Regions from separate parts of the Homo sapiens genome. Here region 2 is linked to region 1. Evidence: fine-mapped expression QTL. A gene starts in region 1. The other region holds a variant in brackets. All regions are shown on one strand. Distances are between the middles of the regions.

Region 1 (10,223 bases):
TCCCACATGTACGTATGTGATTAAAATCTGCTTTTTCTTTTGCTAGTGTGTCATCCAGGCTGGAGTGCAGTGGCACAGTCATGATTCACTGCAGCCTTGAACGCCTAGGTTCAAGCCGTCCTCCCACCTCAGCCTCCGGAGTAGCTGGGACTACAGGCGATCGCCGCCAAGCCTTAAGCTCCTGTCCTCTTATGTTCATGGATTCCCCCCACTCCACACCTCACCCATAAACATAAAAGGGCAGAGGAAAAGTTTCTTTCTCCTCAACGCTATTAGGACACATTCATGCTAGAGGTAATCAGTAAATATCTGTTCAATGAATGAATGAATAATGGGGGGTGAGGTGGTCCCAGAGTGTTTGGTCAGTTTTCTCCTGGCATTTTGATCTTTCAGTTTAGCTCTTTGCTGTCTTTTCCCAGGGATTTGCTGACTACAAGTTTGGCTATGAACTAATAACAAAAATAGCTAACACTATGTCTTGTGCCAGTTATTTTAAATAAATCATCCTAATTTACCTGCAAGGAAATTTCCATAGATATCATTAAAATCTTTACTTATAGATGAGGAAACAGGCTTCAGGAGGTTAATCTTCCCCAGGTCATACATCAGCAAGTGATAGAGCCAGGATGTGACCCGGCTCTCCCAAAGTCTGACCACTGACTGTTGGGGCAAATGTCTATCTGCATCTTTGCTGCCTGGAAAGGCAGAGAATATTCCCATTTTATCTACAGAAAGTCACATGGTAAAATGACATGTCCCAACTCATGGAATTTGTCAAATGGAGTCAGCATAAGACCCTTGGGTTTCCAACCCAATGCAAAATAAGTACCCTTGCTCCTCACAGCATCAGTGAGAAAAATCTAAGACAGACCATACACATGATAGCACTTTGAAGCTGGGTGAGGAGCTACACAAATATACGGGATTATGATTGTTGTGTGTCTGTGCTTTGAGCATTAGAGACTCCCTTCTTAAAGAGACTTATGATTAGTGTCTCTTTTTCCCCTCCTCCCACTCCAGTGTGTCTAAGTGATCATGCTGAATCAATCTGAGGTGGGGTTGGGGGAGAGAAATAAAAACACTGAGGAGGTGATGCCATGTGTTGTTAATGGGATGTTTAGATGTAAAATGATGTTACCAAGCAAAAAGGGCTCAGTGCTTGATGTGCTAGAAGCCAATACTATGATACCGGGTTTTTGAGAAAAGAAAAGCTTTTTATTGCAAGTTGACTAAAAAGACAGGAATCCAGCTCGAATCTGTCTCTCTGTGCTAGGTTTAAAGCAGTAATTTTATTAGAAAAAAATTCATGGGTGGATTCTGGGATTAGTAGGTGATTGGCGGAAGGAAAGCGGAGGTCTAGAAAGTGCTGAGGCATGCACAGTTACCTCTTCATGCCACCACATGGATCATATGTCAAACTCGGGGAGTTTGTATGAACCATGCACTGGAAATTCAGGCTGTGATGTTAGCAAACCATTCTGCACAAACTCCAGTTAGTCATGTTGATTGCAAGCAATTTCAGTCAGTTTTTTAATATTACAAGTGGAGGGAGTTTCAGCAAGTTGTTTCTTTTCTCATCTGCTATCCTGCAAACTCAAGAATTTGTTAGTCACAGACTTCTTTAACTCTTTGGGGCACTGTTTCAAGGCTGCAGTTCTCCGTTGTTTAGCTATGAGCTAGTAGGCACTGTGCGGCTGGCATTCTGCTTTATGGTGGCAATTTCTTTCAGGAATGTCCCTTTGCTTCCAGATAGTTCATAGGTTTGAATAACTATTTATCCTGGCTAAAGGAGATCAATATGTTCGACTCCTACGTACTTACCAGAAGAGAATGATGCTCCTAAGGGGGATGAAAGGTGGGTGGAATGGGGACATAGGGAGCTTTTAAACACCAGTAGCTGGCATATGTAAGCCCTGCACGGTGGTAAGTACTTTGCTTCTGTGCATTTTTCACTCATAAATATATACTGAGTACTTTCTGTGAATTAGTTACTAAGTAACAGCAGGAACAAAATGAAGTCCCTTCTCTCTTGGATTTATATTCGTGCAGAGATAGACAATAAATACATAAATATAAATAAAAGCATTACATTCTCAAAATCACCTTTTGATTATTTTAGGTTTTTCGCTGATCTTTTTTTCTGCCTATATAAATTATATAAGCTAATTGTATAAGCTTCATTTAATATGGAAAAGCCTAAGGAAGAAAGTAAAACTCCCATCACTGTGAAAGCCATTCAAATGTTTTAGTCACCATCTTTTCATATTTTGCCTACATATGTATAAACAATTTTAGGTAGATAGGATTATCTTATACATCCTGTTTGTAATTCTAAATATGATGGAGTTTTATCATCTTCATTTTATAGACTAGGAAGTGGAGGCTTAGAATTTTTTTTTTTGAGACAGAGTCTCGCTCCATCACCCAGGCTGGAGTGCAGTGTCAGTCTCGGCTCACTGCAACCTCTGCCTCCTGGGTTCAAGTGATTCTCCTGCCTCAGCTTCCTGAGTAGCTGAGATTACAGGCGTCTGCACCACGCCCAGCTAATTTTTGTATTTTTAGTAGAGACGGAGTTTTGCCATGCTGAGCCTCCACTTCCTAGTCTATAAAATGAAGATGATAAAACTCCATCATATTTAGAATTACAAACAGGATGTATAAGATAATCCTATCTGCCACGTTGGCCAGACTGTTCTGAAACTCCTGACCTCAAGTGATCCACCCACCTGGGCCTCCCAAAGTGCTGGGATTACAGGCGTGAACCACCATACCTGTCCTAAGCTTTAAATAATACAACTAAAATCTAGAAGTAAAATGTTTAGATTGAGTGCAGTGGCTCATTCCTGTAATCCCAGCATTTAGGGAGGCAGAGGTGGGAGGATCGCTTGAGGCCAGAAGTTAGAGACCAGCCTGGGCAACATAAGGAGACCTGGTCTCTACAAAAACAAAAAAAAGCTGGGCTTGGTGGCCACAGCCTGTAGGCTGAGGTGGGAGGATGGCTTGAACCCAGGAGTTTGAGGCTGCAGTGAACCATGACCGAGCCACTATGCTCCAGCTCCACCCTGGGTGACAGAGCAAGATCCTGTCAAAAAAAAAAAAAAAAGTTAGAAATAAAGAAAAGAAAATGCTTACATATTTATTTAATTTATTTTGAGACAGTCTCGCTCTGTTGCCCAGGCTGGAGTGCAGTGGCGCGATCTTGGCTCACTGCAACCTCTGCCTCCTGGATTCAAGCAATTCTCCTGCCCCAGCCTCCCGACTAACTGGGATTACAGGCACCCGCCACGACGCCCAGCTAATTTTTGTATTTCGAGTAGAGACGGGGGTTTCGCCATGCTGGCCAGGCTGGTCTTGAACTCGTGACCTCAGGTGATCCTCCCCCCTCAGCCTCCCAAAGTGCTGGGATTACACGCTTGAGCCACTCGACCAGGCCTATTTATTTTTTTAAACCAAGGGCTGGATAGGATTTGATCCGGGCTCCAGATAAAGGACTCCTAGGGAGATACCCTGGTTAGCAGAGGCAGTTAGGAGGCTACTAAAAATAGTTCAATCTAGAAATAATTAGGGCCAGAATTGTCTCCAGCAGCGGGCGGGGGTGGGGCTGGGGATGATTTGGGTAGTTATTTTGTTCTCTTCCCAGCAAGTAATTTCAGAGCAGCCCAGAGATTCATTTTCTAAACAAATGATGTTTTTCTCCCAAGACTGACAAGGATCAGACAGACCTAGGGTTGCCACTAGCACCTAGTATCTTTCAGGCTGTTTTCTTTTGTTTTTAAAGTGGATTAAAAGCTTTCAGCCTTACCTAAATCTTTGTTGCAATTGTACAGATCTGCCTAGATTTATAGCAGATGGTAGAACAGAAACAGTTCCCGACGGAATTAATCATCACATTATTAAAACAAATTTTCGAGCATTGACAAATCCCTTCGGGGTTGTCCTCCGAGTGGGCAATTCGTAACCAGCTTGGGGCGTGCTAAGATTGTAAACGTTCCTATGGAGAGCGATAACAAAGGGGCAGCAGTGACTCCGCACACAGAATTCCAAGAATCACCAGCATTCCATGTGTTCCAAGGCTAGCACAGTGCGCGCGAGGTCCGCTTTTTTAAACAGCGCGGAATCACGTGGCCGACAGCCCGCGGCGCTACTGGCCCTCGGAGTCTCCCTCTTGGCTTTGGCGCGGAACCTTTCCCCCTTTGTGGACGCGACCATTGGCCCCGCGCTCGGAGGTGGTACGGACCAACCCTACGGTCATAGATTTTCCGAGTGAAGCTTTTGACTAAGTCTCAGGAAAGCGTTAGCTACAGAATTCTAGATTCAAAAGAAATCCACCAAAAAACGCTGTGGAGGACTGGTTTTGCCTAAAAGAAAGAGCAGACCTGAACTTGACTCCTCCTACGCCCTGTGAAGGCTGCAAGGTGGTTCCGTCCGAGGCGCGGACTCCGCCCCCACGAGCGCCGCCATTTTGTTTGGCTGAGGGGAGCGAGCGGCGCTTTGGGGGAGGGGTCGCGTAGGCGCCTCACCTGACCCTGCGGCCGTGCGGTTGCTGCTCCGGGGCAGGTCTCCTTCCAGGCCAGGGGCCCGGAATCATGTACATAAAGCAGGTAAGGCCTTCGCGTCCCTCCACCCCGTCATGGGCCGGTAAGGGCCGCTCCTTGAGGCGGGAGTGTTGCGGCGCCACCCGCAGCCTCTCCCCTGTCTCCACAGGCTGGACCAGGGCTGGGCGGGGACTGTGGGGGAGGAGGGAGACCCGGGTCCCGCTAGTGCCCCGGCTGCGGGGTCGCGGAGAATTGGGGCACTCCTTTGCAGCCCCGGCCTCCCTGCTGGCGCTTGTCTGGGAGAGGCAGGATCTCCGAGAGGTGTGGAAGGGCCGGCGGGCGGGCCGCTGGGAGGGACTGGGCCTTCCTGGGTGGCCCCAGAGCTGGCGGGGGGCACCCCGCCGGGGCGGCCGCGGGCGGGAAGGGCTGTGTGGTCCTGCAGGGGTGGCCTCACACGGCCCATGTGCCTGGGATGTGTGGAAAGGTGGCTTCCCCGGCCCGGGGGCGGCCCTGGGGGCATTGGCTGGGGTGTCGTCACCTGTCACTGCGGGGAGCCGTTCTTCTCCCCAGTTAACCCGCGAAGTGAGCGGGACCCTCCTGCTTGCAGGATACGGAGCGCCGCCTCCCTCGGTTGTTTACTTCTGTCAAAATGGTCTTCCCGCGCGGGACTCCACCACAAAGATGAGCCCAGGCACACGGCCTTGGAGACGGTTTTCTGTTGGGTCTGTCGGGCTCTGAGCACTCCTTCTTTGGAACGTGGGTTCTTTCAGGCTGGCCGGCGTGAGTGACTGAAAGCAGCACTCGGTGGTCTTGGAGTCAGGAGAGCTGGGGCCCGTCGGCCTGCTTTTATAGACTTGCTATTGTACTGCAGCGTTTAGGGTTCAGTTAAGCTCACACAGTGTTTTTGATTTTGAAAGGTCCTTAACAGGTTGACAGCATAACTCCTAAAAAAAAATAAAACCCAGCAGCATTGCCTTGGCAAAGATTACCGATAAAAGTACCTTTTTTTTTTTTTAGCAGATTTTTAATCACCACTTTCCAAAATGAATTTTTCTTATATGAAATTTCGAGTTTTCTATATTGCATTAAATGAAAAACAAGAAAGAAATGCAAGAGAAAAATGTTAATTTTTTTTGTGGGGTGGGTTCTCAAAAATGTTTTTTATTTACTAGGTGATTATCCAGGGTTTTCGAAGTTACAGAGATCAAACAATTGTAGATCCCTTCAGTTCAAAACATAATGTGATTGGTAAGTGTTCTTGGTTTACTCGGTCATATTTATAGTCTATACAGATAATGTAAATTCTGTCCATTTCTATATTGGCTTAAGGAGACAGGAATTGTCTTTGAATATTAAGTTATATTTTTCTGCGTGAAATAACTTTTCTGTCTTATTGCACTGATGAATTGCTTATTTTTATAAACTTAAAATGTTTGGATAAGACACTCATAAGTTATCCATTTTTTATCTAGGTAGCCTTGTATGTGTGTGTAAGAGTGTTTTAAAGCATTTCCGCTCTTCTGTTCTTGTTATATATCCTAGTGAAAATGCTGACTGTTGCCTTATTTCAGAGACAGACAATTTTTATTCACAAAGTAGATGCCAGGATTCCCCCCCCACCCCGGCAGTCAGTGTCTCTAAGGACAGACCATGTAGCTAGATTGGAAGAGCATAAACTTTGGAGCATAACAGAATGGGGTTCAAATCCCAGTTATAGGGGGGTGGGGGCCTGGGGGAGGGATAGCATTAGGAGAAATACCTAATGTAAATGTCGAGTTGATGGGTGCAGCAAACCAACATGGCACATGTATACCTATGTAACAAACCTGCATGTTGTGCACATGTATCCTAGTATAACAACAACGAAAAAAAAAATCCCAGTTGTGGCACACGTTCTTTTTCACTTTCTGAGAAGCTTCAGTTTTCTCATTTGTAAAGTGGAGATGATACCTGTCTCATAGGGCTGTTGAGAAGATTAAATGAGAAACCTTATGTAAGTGTGAAGATAAAGAGCTAATGGTGATTGCCATTAACAATATGTAGTCATTATAGATTGCTCAGATTGTAGTGTGCATTTTGCTGATACAGCTAACAAAAATGTTTTCTGACACTCTGCTGAGTATTTTACAGGATAGATGAAAGGAGTGCTTCTGGACACCAGAAACACAGACTGCTGTTGACACAGTTTTGCTGTACAGAGTCCAAACTAAGTGGTGTATTAGTTTGCTAAGGCAGCCATAACAAAATACCATAGACTGGTGGCTTAAACAAGATATTTTTTTTCTCATAGTCTGGAGGTCAGACATCCATGATCAGGATACCTGCATGGTTAGGTTCTCGTGAGGCTCTCTTCCTGGCTTATGGACAGCTGCTGTCTTGCTGTGTGCTCACATGGCCCCATCCTCATGTCCTCATTTAACCATAATCATCTTCCAGGGGTCCCCATGTCCAAATACTATCACATTCGGGATTAAGGTGTCAGTTGTTTCAGGGTGTCAGTTCAATTCAGTCTGTGGTGCGTGGGTGAGATTCACATTACTAATGTTTCCAGAAGACCTTTAGAGAATCATACTTCATTTTGTATAAAATGATAAAATTGAAGGCAGGTTTTTTTGCCCTCGATTTATCAATAGCAGCCTTGTAGTTGGGAATAAAGAAGGCATACTTTTTTTTTCCCTGCTTGTGCTCTGTCTACTGAAGTCATTTAATTGAATTGACATGCCATAGGGTGGCTTAATTGTACTGGGGTTTTGCTTACATATAAGTACTTTCTGATTTTTTTCATCAATCAGAAAATCTTTAGAAATGTAGAAAAATAAGAATTATTAGATTTCTGTTTTCTTTAACTTGCACCTTAAAATAAGTACCTTAATATTTCATTTGTGTGATTTTATAAATGATCTGTAACTTACTAGCTAGAATGATTACATTTTGTCTATAAGGTCCATCAAATACCATTGTTTTAGCTGTTATCAGTTAGTTGTGTTACCTCTGTGATTGCAGCATTAGATTTGTTAATAGTCACTGTTACAAAGGAAAATGGTTTTGTTTAACTAAAACAAATGAACCCAAGATAACAGTACTGATTAAACATATTTTAAAACCAGACACGTTGTAAGACATAATGTAAGAAAGACCAAAAGTAGTTAGGTACTGAGATTTGCCTTAAAAATATCTGGTGAAAGCATACCACTTTGATTGATGAATGATGTTGACTATTAAAAAATATCTCTTGTACTGATGTTGGGTATATGCATCAAACATATACGTTTTTAGGGATTTTTTTCCCCCTAACCTTTAACAAAAGAAATACATGTTATAGAACATTATGGAAAAGCTAAAAGGAAGAAAATTAAGATAAACTATAATCCTTTTACTCAGAGATAACCATTCTTTGTTTTTTACTGCACACCATGATTCTTCAGAGATAACCATTCTTAATAATAACAGTCTATACTTGTGATTAGTCCTGGTTTCCTAGAAAACAGCACAGACAGGATTAGCTGCTAAGGCTTTGATGGGAGGTGCAGTTTGAGGGCAAGAATGAAGAGAAAAGCTGGTCATAGATTTCTAAAGAAGAGACAGGTGGTTTGCAGTCATGTTAAATAACTCACAGACTTTGTGGACCCACCATACCTTAGAAAGGTCAGATGATAGAGGAATGGATTTGGATTCTGACAAGGATTTGTTTGCAGGCACCTGTCTTTCATTGGTCAAAGTTTTCTACATCTGGCATTGATGCCTCCAAGCTTTTGGATTGTGGTGCTCTGGGAACTAACACCCGGAAGTAGTCAGGGAGTTATAGCCTCCTTTCCATGTTCACAATTCAGGAGTACCTGAATGTACTCCCAAGGTAGCTTGAATCTACCAGAGGTATTAGGAGACTGAGCTTTTCCATTGATTGGCAGCCAAGGCCTGGGTTGAGAAAGGTGAATCTGGGGCCACATATAAACTGTGTTTACCTCAGTACGTTTTTAGTCTTTGTATACATCTTTTTAATATATATTTAAATAAAAATGGGTTCATTTTTAAATAAAAATGGGTTCATTTTTAAATAAAAAATGGGTTCATCATATAACTTACTGGTAATCTGTTATTCTCCTTCAGGATAAATCTTGAAATATCTTTATTAAATATTCAGCATCCTTTAAAATTGCTATATAGTGTTCCACTCTAGCAGTAATTCTTAAAAGGAAATTCTTAAAATTTCAGTTATTTATAGATGGATTGTGGTTTGAAATATTTATTCATTTAATGATAAATTGTCATCTTAAACTTTTATTTAGAAATAGTTTCAAATTTACAGAAAAATTTCCCCAATAAGAACTGTTCAGAGACTACTCATAAACCCTTTACCTAGATTCACCTGTTGTTAACATTTTCCCCACTTGCTGTATCATTTCCACTTTTTACACACCTTTTTCCTTAAAGTTATTTACACCATGGTCCTTTACCTCTGACTTTAATGTGTACTTTCTAAGAGGAGGGATGTTCTCTTTCATAATCACAGTACAATTTACAACTTAAGTAAATTTAATACATAGTAATCTGTCCATTTTCCAGTTATGTTGACTGACCCAGAAGTGTTCTTGATAGCATTTTTCCCCCTCCAGTACAGGATCTAATTTAGGAGCAGGTATTGCATAGTTGTCATGCTTCTTTAGTCTCCTTTAATCTGGATCATTTCCACAGCCTTCCTTTGTCTTTTATAACATTGTTATTTTTGAGAATTAAGACATAAGTGATGTTGTGTCCCTCTCAGGATATCACATCTGGAGGCACATGAGGTCTGTCTGACTCTTATTGATGATATTACTTTTGATCACCCAGTCAAGGTCTAATGTTTCCACTGTGTAGGTATTATTTTTTCCCTTGCAGCTAATAAGTAATATAGGCAGATGCTTTTGGACCATGTAAATCTTGTGCTCCTTTTCAAACTTTGTGCCTGCATTTACCATCTGTTGATGACCCTTGCCTTTATTCTGACGGTCACAAAATGATTTTTCATTTCCAGCACTCCTTTCACATTTACAACTTGGCATTTGGTAATTCTCCTCCTTCCTTACCTACTTATTTATCTTTTTATTATTGGTATGGATGCATGGATTATTCCCCCCACCAATAATTTATAATTTATTTGGCCATTTTGATGCTCAGATTACCCCTAGTTTTAGCTACTGAAAGGCCCCTTCAAGCTGGCTCCTGTGTCTGTCATATGCGTTTTTTTAAAAAGTACATCCTTTCTGGCATGACATGAATGATCTTTTTGAGATTTACTTTGCATTAAAGGTGGTAACTTTGTGGTTAATTTGCTCAGGATATTTCTGGCTCAAGAGTGAGAAGACTGACATAGTTATTTATGAGTCTTAACACTGAAAATTTCACTAAACACACTTAAAAGGATTTGATACCCTTTTACGTATTGAATTGCTTATATTTGAATTTTGTTAGTCAAAAAGTACCTTAAAATTATTTATATTTTTGTGGTTCTGTGAGACTACACATGATAATATAGGGTTGATTTTAAACATGAGAACACTTTAAGGATTTAAAATGATTATTTTAGAACGTTAGCAATATATGAATCTTTAAATTGTTAAACATATATAGTTAAAATAGAATTATATATCCATTGTAATATGATATAAGAGCCAGGTAGTATATTTAGCTATTCCTATTCATTTTAAA
Region 2 (10,223 bases), 410 kb before region 1:
ACATCTTGCTCAAACTGGTGGCTAGTAAGTGGGGTTCAGGACTCAAAGGCTGGTGTCTCTGACTGCTGAGCCCTTTGAGCCACTGTGTCTCTCCTGAGAAAAGTTGCCTTTCAGAGCTTGCGACCCCCAATCTGTGGCTCTTCTGTGCCTCTGTTGTGCTCCACCCGCTCCCTGGGGATGGTCAGAGCCTGGGCCCTCTCCCCCGGGAAGCTGTTAGGACAGCTCCTGTGATCCCTGCAGCAAAACTATTTGTTTTCCAGAACAAATAGGAGCCTGAAATCAGAGTGCCTGTGTCCCTCAAGAAGGCGGATTCCCCACCTGGTGGGGAGGCGCTGGGCTGTGATGGAGGCTGAGGAGGAAGAAGAACCATGGAGCCAGAAGTTTTGCCAAGGACCAGCCGAGTGTTTTCCCTGAGCTCAGTGTTCTCAGCTCTAGCGTAGGGATGAGCCCCTCCTCTTCCTGGAGCTGAGGCTGGGATGAAGGGAGTGTGGGTCGGTGCCTGGTGCTGGAGGGGTCCACGGCAGGCATCCAGATGCTGTCACTGGAGGGCACGAGAGGCCCCTCCTGGGACACACCCTCTGTCCCCAGTCCCCCTGCACCACCTCTCACCCTGTCTCCTTCCTCTTCCACTTTCATTCTTTCTTTCCCTCTTCCTTCTACATGGATGGAGGCCTCAGAGTGGCCAGAGGGATGTGCTGAGCCTGGCCCTCCCATGGGGAGGAGCCAGTAGACACACCTGCCCGTGGCCTGGAACACTTCCAGCTGGAAAGGCGAACCGAGCCAGGCCCTGAGTCAGTCAGGCAGCCTCACCCCACGCCTCTGGCCCCTGCCCACCCCTCACTCATAGGCACCTGCTTGCTGCCGTCCCTCCTCACCCCGACCTCTGCCCACTCCAGCTGTGGCCTGGGAGGGGTCTGCAGTGAGGGAGAAAATGTTGACCACAGAGATCATGCCACGGCCACTTTTCACTGGAGGGGAAACTGCAGACTGCCTTCCTCCTCCTGCCCTCTCCCCTAACCCAGAGGGAAAGAGGCGTGGGGAGGGGGCTGAGGGATTACCACGCTTGGCTGGCTGGCTTTCCATGTGCAGAGTATTGAGGCCGCCTAATTGACAGATAGTAAACACGGATAAAGACTTTGGGAGAGAGAAGCAGGGGGTCGTTGGGACAAGGCAGGCTGAGGCATTGGGAGGGTGGGGGGCTGAGAGTCTTGGGAGAAGACCAGATGGCTCCCTGCCATGTCCCCATCTGGGCCTCTGCTAACTTTAAGCCAAGTGAACAGGGCCTGGTGGACAAAGGCCAGCGTGCACATGAAGGGGGCCATTAGAGGTGTGGCCTGGGGGAGAGGAGAACCCAGGGGTCCCCCCTTCTGTGTGAGGCCTGGCAGCTTGAGAGTCTGGGCCTGGCGTCCCCTCCCCCAGGCACCAGGGGAGGAATCCAAGCTCCCAACTTGTTCAGAGGGATCTCGCACCATCTCCACACCACCTCTCAGCTCGCCTGTGAGGGCGGCCCTGGGACAGCTCCACGCAGTGTGAATGTTAAGTTTTCCTGCAAGGAGCTGGGGTCTGTAACAGCCCTACTGGTGGCAGAGCTCAGGGAGAGGCTCAAGGCTGCTTGGGAGAGCCTGGTTGTGGCCACCAGCCCTGGGAACACCCTCCACTCCCTTCCAGCGTGGCCCCAAACCCAGAGGATCCAGGCTTCCAGCACGGGATGGGGTTCTGAATGGGGAAGGAGGAAGGAAGCTGCCTGCTCTCTGCCTGGGCCCCTGTACTACCCTCACCCCAGCATGGTCACTCCATTCAACCTACTTCTGTTTCCAAGGCGTCTTACTGTGCCCAGCACCCTGAGGAAGAGAGAGGATCAGAGACATCCCAACCTCCTGTTGGACAAATTCTCTTACTTCCACATTTCTGCCTTGGCTCCTTAGAGAACTCTTCCAAGGCCTCAGCTGGATCCCCTGAGCTCTGACCTGCCAATCACACCAAGGCTGCTCGCCACGAAAAAGAACTGACTTTGCCTCCTCTCCCTCCCTGTCCAAATCCATCCCAGGCTTTCCTGTGCAGCTAAGTCCTTCCCAGAGAGACATCAAGATGAAAGAAAGCAGACAGACCTGGATTCAAACTTCATCTCTACTCTTTATGACTTTGGGCAAGTTGCTTACTCTCTTTGAGTCTCGGTTTCTTGATCTGTAACTGGGAAAGCAGGTGCATCCTTGCCGAGGTGTTGTGAGGATTTAATAAGGTGCGACTTGGAGAGCACCCTGCCCTCCCTCCCTGGCAGGTGTACAGAGAGCTTGTCAGACCATAACTCAAAGGCCACGTGGCCACCATTGCCCATTGACACTACCTCCGAAACCTCTCTCCCGTTCAGCTCCTCTTTCTATCCCCATTGTCACAGCCCTAGTCTAAGCCCCTGGTTTCCCACCTGAATTCATTTAAACAACGAATTCATTGACCCTCTTACTGGTCTTCCCAGTACCCCCTGTCTCAACCCTCAGTCCAGCCTCCCGCTGCTGGAGAACGAGCTCTTTAAAATGCAAATCATGGTCTGTCACTCACCGCCTAGTTGCCTATGACTTGTGAGAGATGAGATCCAACTTCCTTTGCAGGGAGAGAGTTCATTGGTGCCCTGGCCTTATCTGCCTCCTGGCTTGGTTGCTACCCTCCCACCAGTCGCCTCATCTGCCACTTGCATTCACAATACTAGGCCATTGCACATGTTCTTTTCTCCGCTTGACAGGTCCTTACCCTGCTCAACTGAGAGCCAACTTCTCATCCTCCAGGGAGGAAGGAGACACGCTATGTGGCAGGCACTGTGCTAAGCATTTTATTTGCATTATTTCATGAGACAGATACTATTATCCCCACTTAGTGGGTGATAAAACCAAGTCTCAAGTGGTTAAACAGAATTCAATCCTAGATCAATTATGACCCTAAATCCATGTTTTCCTGTTACATCTATTTCCCAGCTCAAATGCCTCCTCCTTCATGAAACCTTCCCCCACTACGAGTGTGGAGGCCGGATCTGGCTTGGTGTTTTAGGGGACAGAGTACATAAATGAATTTCAGAGATGCAAAAAGTTTCTGTTTAGGGGAAGTGCATGATCAGTCCAACAAAGAGATTCAGCATTTCCTGTATTCAAGGAACATGTCTGGGTGCTGCACAGAATGAAACATTAATTGGTGGGCAATAACGTGTTGGCAAAGACATGGAGAAATCAGAGTCTTCATACATTGCTAATGGGAATGTAAAATGGTACAACCATATTTGAAAAACAGTTTGGCAGTTCCTCAAAAAGTTAAACATAGAGTTACCAATTCTACTACTCAGTATATACCCAAGAGAAATGAAAACATATGTCCACGTAAAAATTTTCACACAAATGTTCATAGCAGCATTATTCATAATAGCCAAAATCTGGAAACAACTCAAATGTCCATCAACTGATGAATGAATAAACAAAACATGGCATATGCATTCAAGGAATATTATTTAGCCATGTAAAGGGATGAAGTACTGATACATGCTACAACATGGTGAACCGTGAAAACACTGTGCTAAGTGAAAGAAGACACCTATTGTAACATTTCATTTGTATGTGAATGTCTTGAGATGTCAAGAATAGTAAAAATCAGCCAGGTGCCATGGCTCATGCCTGTTATCCCAGCAGTTTGGGAGGCTGAGGCAGGTGGATCACTTGAGGTCAGGAGTTCGAGATGAGACAAGCCTGGCCAACAGGGTGAAACCCTGTCTCTACTAAATATACAAAAAAATTAGTTGGACGTGGTGGCAGGTGCCCGTAATCCCAGCTACTTGGGAGGCTGAGGCAGAATTGCTGGAACCCAGGAGGCAGAGGTTGCAGTGAGCTGAGATCGCACCACTACACCTCCCGCCTGGGAGACAGAGCAAGACTCCGTCTCAAAAGAAAAAAAAATAGTAAAAATCCATAAACACATAAAGAAGATTAACGGTTCCCCTGGTGTCAGGGTGTGGGGTAAATGCAGTGACAGAAATGGCTGTGGGGTTTCTTTTGGGTGTGATGAAAATGTTCTAAAATCAGATAATGGTAATGGTTTCAGAACTCTGTAGATACAGTAAAAACCACTGAATTGTACACCCTAAAATGGTGAATTTTATGGTATGCGAATTATATCCCAACAAAGCTGTTTTTAAAAAATTGGGCCAGGAATTAAAGACCAGCCTGGGCAACATAGTGAGACTTCCTTTCTACAAAATTAAAAAAAAAAATTGGCCAGGCATGGTGGTATATGGCTGTAGCCCCAGTTACTTGGGAGGCTGAGGTGGGAGAATCGCTTGAGCCCAAGGGGTCAAGGCTGTAGTGAGCCATGTTTGCACCACTGCACTCCAGCCTCGGTGACAGAGTGAGATCCTGTCTCAAAAAAATGACTATAACCTAAATGTCCAACAATAGGGGCTTATTGAGAAAACTGTGATACAACTGGTAGACAACTCTGCAGTGATTTTCAATGATGCAAAATGTTGGTATGAAAATGTTTTAAGGTTATCGAGTAGTTAAAAAAGGAGTAATAGAACAATGAGAACACATGGACACAGGAAGGGGAACATCACACTCTGGGGACTGTTGTGGGGTGGGGGGAGGGGGGAGGGATAGCATTAGGAGATATACCTAACGCTAAAGGACGAGTTAATGGGTGCAGCACACCAGCATGGCACATGTATACATATGTAACTAACCTGCACATTGTGCACATGTACCCTAAAACTTAAAGTATAATAATAATAAAAAGACAAAAATAAATAAATGAAAAAATTATAGCAAATCTTTACTTTTTTAAAAAAAAAAAAAGGAGTAATAGACTCAAAATAGAGTATTGGATTCCATTCTGTTAGGTGTGTGTGCGTGCGTGTGTGTGTGTGTGTGTGTGTGTGTGTGTCTGCATAAGAAAATGGAAAGATCACCAAAATGTTACAGGTCCCAGCTGGGCATCAGGGATACATTTTATCCTCTCTGCAGGGGAGGTGGTGGGGAAGCCATCTGAATTTTCTAATATTTCCACATAGTAAACATCTATTAGTTGTGAAATTTCTAAAAAGAGTGATTAAGAGATCATCCTTGCCCCTCCAAGGGTTCACAATCTAGCAAGGAAGATGAATACAAAAATTGCAGAGGGAGGCCAAGAGACCGGGAGAGAGTGGAGTTCAGTTTTACTGAAGGGCACCAGGGAGCTCTCCTGGGAGGGATGGAGTCTGAAATTATGGCTGAGGCTGGCCGTGGTGCCTCACACCTGTAATCCCAGGACTTTGGGAGGTCGAGGCGGGCAGATCACCCGAGCCCAGGAGTTCAAGACCAGTCTGGGCAATATGGCGAAACCCCGTCTCTACCAAAGAAATACAAAAATTAGCCAGGTGTGGTGGCACACGCCTGTAGTCCCAGCTGCTAGGGAGGCTGAGGTAGGAGGATCACTTGAACCTGGGAGGTCAAGGCTGCATCAAGCTATGATCACACCACTGCACTTTAGCCTGGGTGACAGAGAGAGACTCTGTCT[C/CAA]AAAAAAAAAAAAAAAAAAAAAAAAGTATGGCTGGAAGAAGCATTTGGGGGCACCACCAGAAAACTGAGCCTACAACCCTCAATTTCCAAGAGACAAATGGGAAGGGGCAAATGGCATTTCTCATCAACTGCTTCCAGAGATTTTGTGTCCTGTGTGGCCCAGTCCTCACCTCATGTGATTGAATAATTCTGGATAGAGATTGTGCCTTCCGTACCCCTACAACCATTGGTGGGAGATCGAGTACATTTATCAAAAACCTATGACCAGGCAGTCATCAAACTCGCCTGGCAGCATTTGAATGGGGTCTGGACCAGAGTCCCCTGGGGCAGCCACTGGGTGGAGGGTGCAAGTGTGGATTCAGAGAGGCAGGACACGGACCCTCAGTCCCCTGCGGCTTCCCACGTCCACCCCTTTTTCTTTCTGGTTAAATCCTGTTTCAGCTCAAACTGGGGAGATGCCTAGTGGGGTGTGAGCAGAAGTCAGAGACTGTGAAATAAAACAAGAAAGATCAACAGGAAGCAGGCAGCTAAATCATGAGGAGAACGACGTCGAGAGGGCGTGGGCTGGGTTTGGTCTTATTTTTAGTGGTCATGGTGGTGACAGTGGTGGGGAATTGAGGCCAGAAGCAGGAAGCTGGGTTTCCCAGCCTCAGCTTTTGATGGTTTCCGGGTCCCCGTGGGCCAGTGAAGAAGCAGCCCACCCCTGTGATAAACCAGTTTGTTAAGTTGCCTTTGTCTTTGAGAGATTTTTATACGTTTTTTGTGAAACCGCTGCTGCTGCGAGGGGCCCCTCAAATCACGAATAAAGCAGAGGCTATTAACCAGGGTGTGAACACTGCCCTGCGCATGCTCTGTGAGTGAGCCCCACACACGCACAGGGTGGGCACTCACAACACGGGGAAGGGAGCTTTTGACAGGATCCAAAGGGCCCCACAATTTATCCCAAATTAAGAATCACTAATAAGGCCGGGTGCGGTGGCTCACGCCTGTAATCCCAGCACTTTGGGAGGCTGAGGTGGAGAATCACTTGAGCCAGGAGTTTGAGACCAGCCTGGGCAACATAGCAAGAACCCCATCTCTATAAAAAACACAAAAAATTAGCTAGTCATGTTGGTGCACGCCTGTAGTCCCAGCTACTTGGGAGGCTGAGGTGGGAGAATCGTCTGTGCCTCAGAGGTCAAGGCTGTAGTGAGCCAAGATCGTGCCACTGCACTCCAGCCTGGGTGCTTCCTGGTTAATAGATTCCGTGTCTGGTAGTGATCCATTTCCTGGCTAATAGATGGCCATCTTTTCGCTCTGTCCTCACATGGTGGAAGGGGCAAGGACTCTCTCTCTGGCCTCTTTTATAAGGGTCGTAATCCCACCATGAGGCTTATGCCCTAATGACCCACATCACCTCCCAAAGGCCTCACCTCCTAATACTATCACATTGGGGATTAGGCTTCAACACAAAAATTGGGGGCAGGAGCACACACATTTAAACCACATCAGGTTGTCAAAAATAAAGTTTGAATCTCAGCACTGCGACTGATTTGCTGTGGGATTTTAGGCAAGTGACTTAATGTCTCTGAGCCTTAGTTTCCTCATCTGAAAGTGCATCTAAATGAGATATGGCACCTGAAAGCATCTAAGGGATATTTGCTGTATCTGAGTCTCTCTGGAGAGGGTGGGTGGAAAGGCATTCTGGGGCAAGCAAGGCCAGCGTGCAAATTAGCACCCTGACTGGCAGAAGGCATAGGGGACAGAAGAAGCTCGTGATGCAGCAGGAGTTGGGTCAGCTGGGGGCTTGCCAATTGTCCAAAGGCCCTGCCACAAAGAACCACTTCTTTTTCCTCTGTTTGAGCCCCCTCCCCTCCTCCTCCCTAATACTTCCGCCGTAACCTGTCTGCACACCCCACCAGGCATCTTGTTTTTACCTGGTTGGCCTTTCCAGCTACTGCGTATTTCATTTTGTGTCCTGACTCCTCCAGAATCCTGGGAGTGCCTCAAGGCTAGTGAAATGGCCAGGAAGGAAAAACAGCAGAGAGGAGTCAAACAGACCATGCTGCAAGCCTAACGCGACTGAGTCGTGAGACCTTGGGCAGCTTAATTCCTCTGAGACTGAGTTTTTTCATCTGCAAAGAAGGAATCATTAACAGTACCTTTCTCATAGGGTGGTGTTTTAAAGATTAAAGGAGGTATTGCATGTAGAGACATAGATGGAAGGAAGTAAGCTCTCAGCGAGTCTTACTTGTTAGTTTTCTTCTTACCCCCACCATGTGGAATGCAGCACTGAGCAGGGCCTCAGCTTCCCAAACTCAGCCAGGTGTCATTGCAGTCCTTCCCACAGACTTGTTTTTCTGGCAGACACTTACATGACTGGCTTATTGCAAATACATGCACTATACTCCAAAATGCCCTTTTAGATGACTGATCCCAAACCCGGTGGCATGTCAGAATCATCTGGGTAAGCTTTCTTAAAAAAAAAAAAATACGGATTCCCAGATACCACCTTACCTACCAAATCAATCTCTGGAAATGGGGCCTGGGAATCTGTACTTTTAAAATGCCCCTCAGGTGGCTCAGATCCAGCCAGCAGATCACCATTTTAAAGGAAAACAGCCTTCTCTTCTTCTAAAGCTTCTTGTTGGCAAGTTTTGAGCCATCTTGTTCCATTATTCAGAACACCCCACAACGGACAATGACAAGATGTGTTTATTTTTTCATTCATTGAACACATGTTCATTAAGTGCCTCTGGTCTAGAATAACAGCTAAAAGTTTAAGCTCTGGGTCGGTTCATACCCACTGGGATGGCTATAAACAAAAAGACAATAACAAGTGTTGACAAGGGTGTGGAGAAACTGGAGCCCCCATACACTGCTGGTGGGAAGGTAACATGGTGCAGCCACTTTGGAAAACAGTCTAGCAGTTCCTTTAAAAAACATACGTTCTAGGTTCCTCTATCATCCCGCAGTTCCACTCCCAGCTGTATACCCAAGAGAGACGAAAACGTATGTCCATCCAAAAACTTGCTCATGCTTGGTCATAGCAGCATTATTCATAATACTGAAAACGTGAAAACAACCCAGTTCATCAGTTGACAAAGAGATAAAGTTGATCTGTCCATACAATGGACTATTTTTTTGGAAATGGAAGTGCTGATAGATGCTACAACAGGGAGGAACCTTGCAATCATTATGCTAAATGAAACAAGCCAGCCACAAAGGACCACATATCATATAATCCTATTTATATGAAATGCCCAGAATAGGCGAATCTATACAGACGGAAGTAGATAGGACTGAGAAGTTGGGGGAAATGGGGAGTAACTGCTAACGGGTATGGGCTCTCTTTCTGGGATGATGAAATGTTCTAAGATTGTTTGTGGTGATGGTTGCAGGACTCTGTTAATGCACTAAAAACTGTCTGATTGTATACTTTAAATGGGTGAATTGTATGGTATGTGAATTAGATCTCCATAAATTTATTAAAAGTAGAAAGTTCAGGCTCTGAAGTCTGACTTCCCAGGTTGGAATCCTAGCCCTGCTATTTCACTAGTTGGGCAATTTTATGCAAGTAATATAGCCTCTCCATGCCTTAGCTTCCTCATTGTAAGATTAATTTAGTTAATATGTGAAAAAGTTTAGAAGAGTCCCTAGCCCATGGGAAGTGTTCAGTAAACATTAGCTCTTCTTGTTTTGAGCCAGCCATGTTCTAGATCTGTGCTGTCCAATACAGTAGAGAATAGCACTTAAAATGTAGCTACTCCCCACCGCCACCCCCCTCCAAAAATGTAGCTACTCTGAATTAAGATATGCTAAAAGGACCAGGCACAGTGGCTCACGCCTATAATCCCAGCACTTTGAGAGGCTGAGGCGGGTGGATCAATTGAGGTCAGGAGTTTGAGATATGCTGAAAGTATAAAACACACATCAGATTTCAAAGGCTTAGTATGCAAAGTAAAAATCTCGTTAATATTTTATAATAATTACATGCTGAAATATTTTTGATATATTGGGTTAAATAAAATTTATTTGTAAAATTAATTTTACCATTTACTCTTATGTTTTAAAATTGTGGCTACTAGAAAACTTAAAATTGCATAGTTAACAACTAACATCATAATTAATGGTAAAAGACTGAAAGCTTTCCCCTAAGATCATGAACAAGACAAGGGTGTCTCCTCTTCTTGTCAGTTCTATTCAACATTGTGCTGGAGGGGCTAGCCAGGGAAATTAGGCAAGAAAGTGAAATAAAAGGCCAGTTTGGAAAAGAAGAAGTAAAACTATCTCTGTTGACAAATAATCTTTTATATAGAAAATACTAAGATATCTACCCCCAAGCACCAGGCTATTAGAGCTAATAAACAAGTTCAGTAATATTTCAAAATATAAGATCTGCATATAAAAATTAATTCTATATCCATATGCTAGCAATTAAAGTTTCAAAAATAGAATTTAGAAAACTATTTCACATCTAGTAGTATCAAAAGGAATAAAGTACCTAAGCATAAATTTAACAGAAGTACAAGATGTGTACATTCAAAACTGTAAAATATTGTTGAAGGAAATTGAAGAAGACCTAAATAAATGGAACAACAACACATAGTTGTGAATTGGAAGGCTTAATATTGCTAAGATGGCAATATTCCCAAAATTGATATAACAGATTCAATGCAATCCTATCAAAATTCCAACTGACTTCTTTGTAGAAGTTG

The links.
Region 2: its variant is fine-mapped to the expression of SMC3 in whole blood (INTERVAL, PIP above 0.99).

The regions. Positions count from the first base shown.
Region 1 is chr10:110,563,231-110,573,453 of GRCh38, forward strand. SMC3 (structural maintenance of chromosomes 3) reads left to right here and starts at 4,465. Exons shown (of 29, transcript NM_005445.4): 1 at 4,465-4,601; 2 at 5,708-5,783. The coding sequence starts at 4,587. It overlaps LOC105378483 (a long non-coding RNA gene), which reads right to left and starts at 4,078. Exons shown (of 2, transcript XR_946318.2): 1 at 3,803-4,078; 2 at 1,271-1,783. RefSeq lists enhancers at 2,768-3,470, 4,285-4,334, 4,345-4,444 and a silencer at 4,785-5,074.
Region 2 is chr10:110,150,970-110,161,192 of GRCh38, forward strand. LOC105378479 (a long non-coding RNA gene) reads right to left here and starts at 1,011. Exons shown (of 3, transcript NR_164121.1): 1 at 319-1,011. RefSeq lists enhancers at 169-1,163, 1,164-2,156. The variant C/CAA (reference allele first, on the strand shown) is at 5,527.